Linked DNA regions of Homo sapiens. The protein of the gene in region 2 interacts with the protein of the main gene of each other region in a pairwise test. Each region holds a gene or a part of one and is shown on either strand. Other genes may lie near its edges. The genes, in order: LHX5, UBQLN1 and SCMH1.

Region 1 (3,654 bases), on a different chromosome or scaffold from region 2:
GAAAACCAGCGAAGGCCGCTGCCCCCGCGCCGTGCGCGCCGCCTCCGCCCATATGGCGGCCGGGCCGGAGGTAATTGGAACAAACGCCGTCTGAAAAGGGCACAAAAGCCGCAGCTGGGGCTTTGTCCGCGCTCCCACGGGGAGCCGCCGGCCCCGCCGCCCGGCCCCTTTCTCGCCCGCTGCCGGTCGCCACCGCCGGGATCTCCCAGCGCGGATTAGGCGGGGCTGCCTCGCTGGGGGCTGGGGAGTCTTCCCCACCATTACGGGGAACGAGGGGCCCCCAGTATCCAGCTCCCCACCTCATCCAGCGCGCAGGGAGAGGAGGCGGTGGGATAGGTCGGGGCGGGGGCGAAGTGGTCCTCGGGGAAACCTTGGTTAATTATCCAGGCGGGGAAAAATTCCGGGCCGGTACCGCCCCCACTACCTCGCTGCTCCGGGCCCAGATTTTGTAGGGAAAGAGGCAAATTTAGGTGGAGAGAGTCGGTGAGTGGAGACTCCGGAAGACACGCCCACCATCCGGGCTCTCCAGGGTTGGGGGTCTGTCCGGGGTTGGGGGTCTGTCCAGGGTTGGGGGGCTGTCCAGGGTTGGGCGGCTGGGGCGCTCCAGCCTGAGCCCTGCCACTGCCTGGGGTCTCTGCCCTGAAAAGCACAGCCTGGCATTTTGCCCACAATTTCTAGGGGCCCCGGTCCGGTCTCAAGGTCTAATCCCCCCTCAGGCTTCCGGATGTGCTGAGGTTAGTGATGGGGTTATCTTCCCTTCCCTTCTGCGTCTACCTGGGTGCCTAGCTCCTGCCTTGCTAACACTGCCACTGAACCCACTTTCTAAGAGAAATTGCCTCTTCCTAACCTGCGTTACAACTCAGAAGTGCAGATGCCTCTCAGACATAGACAGTCCTGGGGTCTCTCCAAATTCAGAAGCTTCAGAATAGAAGAGGAGAGGTGCTTTCTTGAGCCCTCAGCCCTGGGAAGAACAGGACAGTGAGCTTGGTGAGCTCAAGCAATGCGGCTCAGGGTAAGGAGCTGAAAAAATCGGATAGGGGGAGTTGGGATGGCTCACCAATCCAGTGTGAGGGAAGTGAGAGGAGGAAAAGCTGAGGTGGCAAGGGGACAGCTCACCCCAGGCCCAAGCCTGGTACCACCATCTGAAGCCCTTTGTAAACTGGGGCTCCTCGCTCTCTGCAGCCCCAAAGACGGTGGAAATCTGGGGTTGGCCCAACACTTGTGCCCCCAGTCTGTAGGAACCCCAGGGGTCTCGGGGCTGGAGGGTGGACTACAGTCCTGCCCAGAGCAACTGCCGGCATTTGGGCTAACACTGCCAGATGCTGTGCGCACACACCCCGCCACATGGAACAGGAGTTGCTGCCTTCGATGCTAGTGAGCAGGCGGCTTGGAATGAATCCAGACCCCCATCCCCTCCCCTCACACTACCCTCCAGCGCTCGGAATCCACCTCATGCCAAGTACACCAGGCACAGGGCGGCAGGAAGGCTGTGCGTCTGTCCGTGGGGGCCGCATGCATGTGGATTTGCCAGTACTGGCCTCAGTGTGACTGGTGGGAGTGTGCGCGTCTGTGGAGTTGTGTCTCCGTGAGTGTACCTGTGTGTGAGAGGGTGGAATTTACCTATACGTGATCGTGCGATCGTGTCTAGACGTGTGTCCCTGGAGTCTCTGAACGCAAGTGTGAGTGCACCTTGTGCCCTGCGTGGGTGAATGTGTCACTGTATCTCGTGTGTGCTTCTGTGTGCATCACTGTATGGGTGAGACCATGTATCTGATTTTGTGTCCAGGACATGTGGGTGAGTGTACATGTGTCTGTGATCGTGTGTCCAGCGAGTGGGCGATGTTCTGGAGCGGCGGAAAGCGTGCTGGCCGGGACCCTTCGCCCTCAGCTCCCGGAATAGGACAGGTGCGGAACAGCGAATCCCGGGGCGCCCCTTACCTCCGTAGTAGGTGTACGGGGTGGACCCCAACATCTCAGACTCGTCCAAGCGGCCGCCCAGCGGACGCATGCGCCGCGGACTCCGGAAGAAGGCGTGCCTCCGGGCGCCTAGGGCGCTCAGCTGTTTCATCCGGCGTTCTTTGGACCGTCGGTTCTGAAACCACACCTGGGACAGAGGAGGGGGCTGTGAACCCAGGATCAGGAGTGTCCTCTCCCCCCCTCTTCTCCCTTCCCTGACTGGGCTGCCCCTGCTGGGTCCTTGCGCCTCTTCCGCACCAGGACTCCCCCGAGGCGGGGCCGGGCCGGATTAGGCCGGGAGGGGTGGAGAGAGGCTTCGGCGAACCAGCCAAGGGTGAAGGATTTCGCGGACCCGTGGGGCGACTCATAAAGACTTGGGCTTCCTGGTCCCCGGCTCGCCCGCGGCCTGACGGCTCTATAAAGGCCTCCCTCCCGGCACGGCTCTCGCCTCGGCCCCTCGGCTCCGGAGCCAGCCTCTGGCCGTTTGTCTGCCCGCGCTTCGGCGCAGGGAGGGAGGGGGCATCGCCTGTTTCTCTGCTCGAAAGGTGGAGGTAAAGAGGGATCCCGGACCCCAGAGAGGCTTACAACCTTCCATAAGCAAGGCGGGGGGCGGAATTCAGAGAGGTAAAGTGACCCGCCCCCAAATCGCAATACCAGGAGGACAGCAGGGCTAGATGGAATCTTTCGGTTCACAGTCCCCGACCTCGGGCAAGTGCCCCACTCGGGCGCACGGTCTGCTCCCAGACCAGAACCAGGCGCGCTCGTAGCCAAGGAAGCTTGGCGGGAGACTCCTCCGAGGCTCCCGGCTCCCAGGCCAGCGGGGCTAAGGAGCTGTGCCCGCCCCGGGCCGCACCTGGATGACGCGCATGTTGAGGCCGGTCTCCTGCGCCAGCTGCTCGCGGATGTGGCGCGTGGGCTTGGGCGTGGCGGCGAAGGCAGCCTTGAGCGTCTCCAGCTGCTTGGCCTTGATGGTGGTGCGGGGGCCGCGCCGCTTGGTGCCCGAGTTCTGCTCCTCGTTCTCGTTGTTGGCCGTCTCCTTGTCCGACGAGGTCGAGTTGTCCGTCTCTTTGGGGTCGTCCTGCAGTGCGTCCTGGAGGTCCGGGGACAAACTGCGGTCCGTACAGGATGACACTGCGGGCGGACGGATCGGGAAGGGGACAGCGGCGTCAGCGACGGCCAGACGCCTCTTCAGTCCAGTGGCGGGTTCCCGCCGGCCCAAGCTACGGCCTGCCCAGGCTACGGCCAGCCCCGCTGGATTCCCTCCCAAACCTGCGACAGCCCCTCCCCCAGGGACCCGGTGCCCGCCCACTCTCTCCAGGCGGGGCTGGGCCTTTGGAGGGGCGCTCTTAAGCCCTCTCCGCGCGTCTCAGCTAGTACCTGGGTAAGGGTAGGGGGACGCGTACCCTCTGGAGAACTCCCACTTTCAAGGAGAGGGGACAAGGAGGGCACAGATTCCCTTGGGGCTTGGATCTTCCTCTCTCTTCCCTCCTCTCTCCAGACCTCAATTAATGTCCTTCCAGTGCATCAAGAAATTACCTGGAGCTCAAGTGACACATAAGGGGGAATTGTGCGCTTCCAAATTAGGGGAGGAGGGCAACTTGGAAAAGGCTCCTGAATTGGAGGAGGGTGAGGCAGAGCTGGCAGGTCTCAGATCCCCTGTAAAACCTGCTCCAAAGCCACTTCTCTTCTCTAGCCTCT
Region 2 (3,654 bases):
TATGAAGTAGATACTGCTTTCTCCATTTTACAGATGGGGAACCTGAAGTATGAAGACGCTAGATAACTTGCCCAAGATCACATGGGTTAGATTAGATTTGAACCCACGTAATCAGGCTCCTGATACTGCTTGGAGTCACTGTGCTCTATGGTTTCAAATGTTAAATGTGCCTACCATTTTACTCAGTGAGTGGCAGTACACAGTGAAAATGGGTGGAGGCATTACATCTTTTGTTGCCTTGGGCATGAAGGCTTACTTCTTTCATAAGGGTGGGCAATATTAAGTGCCGAATATGATTCTAATTAATTCTTTGCAGTCTTGGAGGAAAAGTTGGCTCAGTCCTTTTCACTTTATGGAATTTTTCAGCAGTAATTTTGACCATACGTAATTTTTGCCTTAAGTTGACTTCAGAAGCTAGCTCTTCATTAGACAAGATTTTACTGTAAATGCAGAATGTTTAAACTCATCAGTCCTCTTTTCCTGGTATATGTTGGGCATGTACTTTTAGAGATGTTTTAGTTTTAAAGTTCTTTCGTAGTTCAGTTGATACATAATATGTATAATCATTTGTACTTGGTGAAATTAAACACAGTGCATATTATATTTTAAAGCTTTAACTTTTGTTTAAGTATTTTTCCTTAATATGTCTTTTTTAAAAACAAACTTTCAGCTAGTATGTTCAACACACCAGGAATGCAGAGCTTGTTGCAACAAATAACTGAAAACCCACAACTGATGCAAAACATGTTGTCTGCCCCCTACATGAGAAGCATGATGCAGTCACTAAGCCAGAATCCTGACCTTGCTGCACAGGTGAGTTTGTAATTGTATTGAAAAAGACTGTGCAGTGTGAATTAAAATAACCTAATCTTGTAATTGTGATTTTGGCACATTTGTGTTGTGTATGATATCTTAATACACTAGAAAAATAAGTAAACTGTGTCTCCAATTTTTTAGACCGTGTGTTTCTTTGCAGTAAATTAATACTTCATATGTAATTAAAACAACTTTATCTCTGCCATTCATTGACTAGAAAGAAGTGCAGGTTTAGTTTGTTTCTACATATGTTGAGTTAGGAGACAAGTACAGAGTTCTGGAATGCCCACTCTTTTGAAGATAAACTACTTAATGAAATGTAAATCTTGAAAGCAATTAAGAGCAATGTTAATACATTTGAAATACTTTTATTTAGTAGATCACTCAGATTATAATAGTCATGCTCAGAATGGCAGTTGTAAAATAGCATTTATTAAAGACGGGAATTTGTCAGAACAATGTTCTCCTTCTTTCAACTATTGATTCCCCTGCTGAAAATCGTATACAGGTCCCTTATTAATGTATTCCTTTTTCTAATTTGTTTCTAAAGAGACCACAGCTAAGAAAATTGGGGATCTTAATGCTGGCTGAACACTCAGGATCACTTGGGAAGCTTTATAGACAGTACCGATGGTTGGGGCCTCATCCTTAGAGATTTTGAGATAATTGCGTCCGATAACCCTTTCTCCCTCAAGTTGCCTAGGTACTATCTAGGTTCCATACCACAGGGCTTGAAAAACCACGGAGAATGTGAAATAAACCTTGATAATCTGTAGTTTATATTTGCTGTTCGTTAAAAATGGCTTCTGTAGTGTGTCAGGAATTTGGAAGACTTTATAGTTAATCTCATCCCTTAAATTTTAAAAGCTTTAAGTCAAATGAATGGTTTTTATTTTCTAAATTCTAAAACTATATTGATTCAGGTATCTTTGTGTATAATTCTCAGTAATAACTTATGCCCTCACCAAATTTGTGGAATTGGAAATAACAAATTTTAAGAAGAATTTTTGTGTCTGTGATTCTGTATATTGGAGGTACATTTTATGGAAGATTGATTTATGCATATGAAACTTATCAGACTGAGTTGTTAGTATTAAATGCTTCAATTTACCATAATAAGCCATTTTAAGTGTGTATTTGGCTAATACTGAATGTGCATCTTGCTTTTAAAATTTGACTTTAACAAGCACATGCGTAGCAATTTTGTAATAATCTTACTTTAGTAAAGTGACTTGAGCACTCACATACTATTTTTTTACTCTAAAACAAAATGTTGCTAGTACTAGATTGGCATGTCTTTTATTACAGATAATTTAGAAACTTTTACAATGTTCTTGTTATCTGCAGATTAAAATTTGTGGTTTTTCTATTCTTTTGATTTTTAAATATTTAAAAAGACTCTTGAGTGTAAAAACTTGTGGTATAAGCACTCAGGTAAGTTATAAGAAGTATCTAATAAGATGATTATCTGTGAAAGGATACGTTTAAGATGACATGCTTTTTTAAGATGAAATGAAGTGAATTCCAAAAGATATGTGTGATAACCTCGTTAATATGTTGATGATAAGTATTTGGAACCAATAAAGAAGCAGGTTTGTTGACCTTAAGCCTGTATGAGTTTACTTACTGTGAACTTACTGGTCACTTTGAAATAAATACTGTATGTTCCTGAAAGGTTGTCTGACATCTGCTTTTGTTATTGTATTGAAATTAACTAAAAGATCACTTTGCAAGAATTGGGGCGAATTTTCTCTACCAGCATTTACATTGCTCTTAAATACGGTTAACTTCTTGAGGGCAAGGATCATTTCCTCCCCAGACTTTGGATAGATAAATAGGCTATCAGTAAATCCTTGTTAGTTGACTTTTTACTCCGCCTGGGGAAAATGATATAAAATGTGTCTTTTGAAGCTACAAGAATTTATTAGCTCTGGTTATGCTCCTTGTGTATTTTAATCTTATTTTCAGGTATATGACATCATACTAATAATGATCCTGATTTTTAAATTCTTAACGTTTATTTGAAGTTTAGGAGATGCCACTTTTCTCATCTCTGGTAGTAGTGAGGTGAAATCCAGATGCTAATCTTGGTGTTCTCAAATGGATTTACATCTTTTAGGTCTTAAATCATTTTAATACTTTTCCCAGAGGACTGTTGGTGCTAGGCCTGACTGATTTTCACCTAGCAGCTCCATTTCTCTGGCAAGTTGGTTGCTGTTTTGCGGTGTTATTTTTTTGGACCTAATATTAGCTGTTTTGTAGTAGGCAGGTAGATGTAGTGGTCCTTTTCAGATCTAGATTTTCTCTGTGCCTGCCACTTGTGTGTTGAGGTTTCTAAGCAAGCCATGTTACATAGTTCATGTATTGATGTTTATGTTTATTCTGCCAGTGTAGTAGAAAATATATCTTCATGAATGCCAGTTACTCCCATTTTTCTTTCAATGGCATATATTCACGTTTGTTCAAGGAAAAGCCTAAGAAAATGATTGCTTTTATTTTTTAGGATATTGCATGTCATTATCATAACCACCATTCTCATTGAGAGAGAATATGCCTCATTTTTTTGTTTTTGTTCTTCTGGAGATCCCTCTTGTGGACAGTATCTTCCCTTTTCCTTTTTTTATTTATGTTCTACCTTCCTCCCTTTTAAGTGCCAGCTGAGGCACTTGGGGGAAGATAGAATAAAACAAGGTACATTACTTGTTTCAGATATTTCCAGTTAAAATTGTTTGAACACTTGCCCCATAGATGATGCTGAATAATCCCCTATTTGCTGGAAATCCTCAGCTTCAAGAACAAATGAGACAACAGCTCCCAACTTTCCTCCAACAAGTGAGT
Region 3 (3,654 bases), on a different chromosome or scaffold from region 2:
TATCATCTGGGTCCTGATTTCAAGAGCACGTAGATGGGCCTTTACCTTTGGTGCCAGGAGGCTGCAGGTTGTCTCCAGTCAAGGAACACCAGCCCACAGGGAAGATGTCTCGGGAGTCGAAGCGGCACCAGTAGTCAAAGGCCCCTCGCCACCCATCAAAAGTGACAAGCACCTCTGAGCCCCGAACCTCCCCAATAGTGGCTGGGCAAATGAAATGAGGGTTCTTCCTGTCCACAGCTTCTAGCTTCATTCCCATTTTGAAGAAGTTGTGGGAAGGCGATGGTGGCTCCTAGATGAGAAACAGAAACATACACACCTAGACACAAAGAGAGGCCATTATGCCAATAGACTACTATCTAATTTGGATGATTAAAAAGTGACTGCTACATGAGACTTATAATGGATATATAGCCTTTCTTTTAAATTAATTTTAAATTCAATATTTCAATATTTAAAGTATTACTTTATTAATCCTAACATTTTGACAACTTTGCTTCAGATTTTTTAAAAAGGAAATAAAAGGTTGCAGATAAAGTTGAATCTCCCTTTCTGCCCTTCCCATATTCCATTCCCCCTCTACCTACCACGGAGGTAACAGCTACCCATGCATGTTTTATATTTTACTATATACATACATACCCATTTGCCTGCTTTTAAATTTTATATAAATGGTATTATACTGTATATATCATTGTACAATTTGCTTTTTGTTTAGCAGTATGTTTTTGAAATCTGCCCATGTTGATAAATTTAGCTCTGATTCATTTTAACTTGTAATAGTATTTCATTGTATATATATATCGAAATTTATTCATTCTCCTTTGGACACTTAAAGATCTTTCCAATTGTTTACTATTTTAAAAGAGTTTTAACCACCATCCTTGCACTTCTTTGTATATGTGTAGGAAGGTTTCTTTAGGTTATACATCTAGGTGTAGAATTCCTGAATTCCTGGGTTATAGGGTAGATATATACATCTTCTGCTTTATCAAATATTTTTAACTTGTACTCCAAAGTGGTTGTAACATTGTATACTTTCACCGGAAGTGTAGAGAGTTCCTGGGTGCTAATTTGTAATGCAGTTACATAGATCAAGTTTCAAAAAATGTGTTGTACATTCTATTCTGTTCCCTTAATCTTACTATCTGATCCTGTACCAATAACATAGTCTTATTAAATGGATATCTGATAGGAAAAGTCCCCCTACTTTGTCATTCTTCAATATTGTTTTTGCTATTCATTCTCTGTCTTTCATATAAATTTCAATCAGTTTTTTCGAGTTCCATATATAAACCCTATTAGGATTTTGACTGGAATTACAACGAATTTATAGATAAATTTGGGTGGAAATAACCTTTATTATATACTATCAAGCCTTCCCATCCATAAACATGATAGTCTTTTCCACTTGTTAAGATTTCCTTTCTCTCTCTCTCTCTCTCTCTCTTTCTTTTTTGGAGAAAGGGTCTGGTTCTGTCACCCAGGCTGGAGTGCAGTGGTGTAATCCTGGCTCACTGCAACCTCTGCCTCCCAGGGTCAAGTGATCCTCCTACCTCAGCCTCCCAAGTAGCTGGGATTACAGGCACACACCACCACACTCTGCTAATTTTTGTTATTTTTTGTAGAGATGGGGTTTTACCATGTTGCCCAAGCTGGTCTCGAACTCCTGACCTCAAGTGATCCGTATGCCTTGGCCTCCCAAAAAGTGCTGGGATTACAGGCATGAGCCACCGTGCCTGGCCAAGATTTCTTTAATGCAGATTTCTTCAACATACATTTAAAAATTTCCTCTATAAATATCTCATGCTTTTTTACTAACTTTTTTTCTAGGCAAATTACAATTCCATTGCTATCATAAGTGGCATTTAAAAAATTTATTTTCAAATCATTTAAATTTAACTGTTGTTAAATGCAAATAAAGTGATTTTTAAAAATTGACCAACTTATTCGATACTGATTATTAGCTTATGCTGATTGACATACCAATTCTTGTGTGCTTGATTTATCAATTGTTAAGAGATAAGTCTTCAAATATTCCCTAGTGATTTGTGGATTTTCCAATTTTACCATGTAATTTTGTCAAATTTTGCTCTATTATACTTTGAGATTACATTTTCTAGGAGCATGTACATTTATGACTGTTTTATCTTCCTGGTGAACTGTACTTTATGATAATTAGATAGTGACCTCTTTAATGCATTTTATTTATTTATTTCTAGAATCAGGGTCTTGCTCTGTCACCCAGGCTGGTGTGCAATGGTGCAAACACAGCTCCCTGCAGCCTCAATCTCCTGGGCTTAAGCGATTCTTCCACCTCGGTCTCCCAAGTAGCTGCGACTACAGGCACGTGCCACCACTCTTAGCTAATTTTTAAATTTTTTCTAGAGACGGGGTCTTGCTACAGGTGGCCCAGGCTGGTCTCAAATTCCTGGACTCAGTGCTTTTAGCATCATTTAGACTTTTAGTATCAAAGTCTTGCGTGATTTCCGTATAGTTTATGCCAGCTTTATTTTGATAAAAGTTCATCTGGCACATCTTTCATATTCTTTTATTTTCTTTTTTAAAAATTAAAAAATTTGTTTTCCATCATTCCCACCCTCTGTAGATTTCTTTTACTTTCAACATTTTTGTCATTATGTTTAGTGTCTCTTATACATAGCATATAGCTAGATTTTTAAAAATCTGATCTATGTATGATTATAATGAGCTTAAGCTCATTTCTTGTGATAATTGATGTATCTGAATTTATTACAACTACCTTATTGTCTATGTTTCTATTTAATTTGAATTTCCAAAGTTCTTTTTTCTCCTTTTCAATCAACTAAGTTTTCTTCTATTTTCCCCCTCCACTGATCCGGAAGTTAAACATTCTACTTGGAGTCTTTTGGTAGATCCCTTTACTGCACAGCTGGCATAACAAAGTCTAAAACTCATCTTTATTTCTAGTCCCAAAGAATACAAGAACTACTCCTGAGTTACATAAGTGCTAGGTAATTCAGAAGCAGGATGCTCTTAGTGTTGAGACTTAACTAGCAGCATAGGCAAACCTAATTTAATACCCTTTACAGTAACTTTTACCCCATTAGAAAATTCAACTGATAGACTCACTGCCTCACTTCTTGAGAAGCAATAACAAATACAGGTTTTGGATCCCTGTTCTGCCGCTTACTAGCCACGTGATCTTGAGCAAGCTCCTAATTCAAAAGTATTTGTTTCCTTAACTATTAAATGGAAATAATAATTCTTAGTTCATAAAGTTAGCTGTGGGTATTACATGAGATAGTATATATAAAGTCCCAAACATATCGTAGGCAATAAAAAAAGTCTCCTTCTTTTCTCTGTTTAGAACATGAACTCTACAGAACTCCAAGATCTATAATAAGAATAGCGCCTTTAGATTTGTATTACATTTAACATATTCTACTAATAATACATTTTAACTTCTTAACAAGCCCGACAGGTAAACAGAGATTACTGGAAGCTGGGACCATATAATCTAATCTATGGGACCTTATAGTCTAATATATTCCTCTGGGGATAATTGCTGCTTCATAAGCTACTAAAAAATCCTTCTGAACTAATTTCTGAGAAGGCATCTTCAGGCCATAAGTAAATGTGGACATCAAAGTCTCAATATTTGACCTTAAGCAGCCT

Evidence for each region.
Region 1: the proteins of UBQLN1 (region 2) and LHX5 interact in binary tests that used the Homo sapiens proteins (3 or more experiments, as listed by UniProt).
Region 3: the proteins of UBQLN1 (region 2) and SCMH1 interact in binary tests that used the Homo sapiens proteins (3 or more experiments, as listed by UniProt).

Annotation. Positions count from the first base shown.
Region 1 is NC_000012.12:113,465,318-113,468,971, forward strand, and holds part of LHX5 (LIM/homeobox protein Lhx5), read right to left. Parts: intron 3,088-3,654; coding exon 2,810-3,087; intron 2,105-2,809; coding exon 1,939-2,104; intron 1-1,938. UniProt on the Homo sapiens protein: Plays an essential role in the regulation of neuronal differentiation and migration during development of the central nervous system.
Region 2 is NC_000009.12:83,666,344-83,669,997, reverse strand, and holds part of UBQLN1 (ubiquilin-1), read left to right. Parts: intron 1-670; coding exon 671-813; intron 814-1,366; coding exon of another isoform or gene 1,367-1,468; exon of another isoform or gene 1,469-2,490; intron 2,491-3,564; coding exon 3,565-3,648; intron 3,649-3,654. UniProt on the Homo sapiens protein: Plays an important role in the regulation of different protein degradation mechanisms and pathways including ubiquitin-proteasome system (UPS), autophagy and endoplasmic reticulum-associated protein degradation (ERAD) pathway.
Region 3 is NC_000001.11:41,113,238-41,116,891, forward strand, and holds part of SCMH1 (polycomb protein SCMH1), read right to left. Parts: intron 317-3,654; exon of another isoform or gene 290-316; coding exon 46-289; intron 1-45. UniProt on the Homo sapiens protein: Associates with Polycomb group (PcG) multiprotein complexes; the complex class is required to maintain the transcriptionally repressive state of some genes.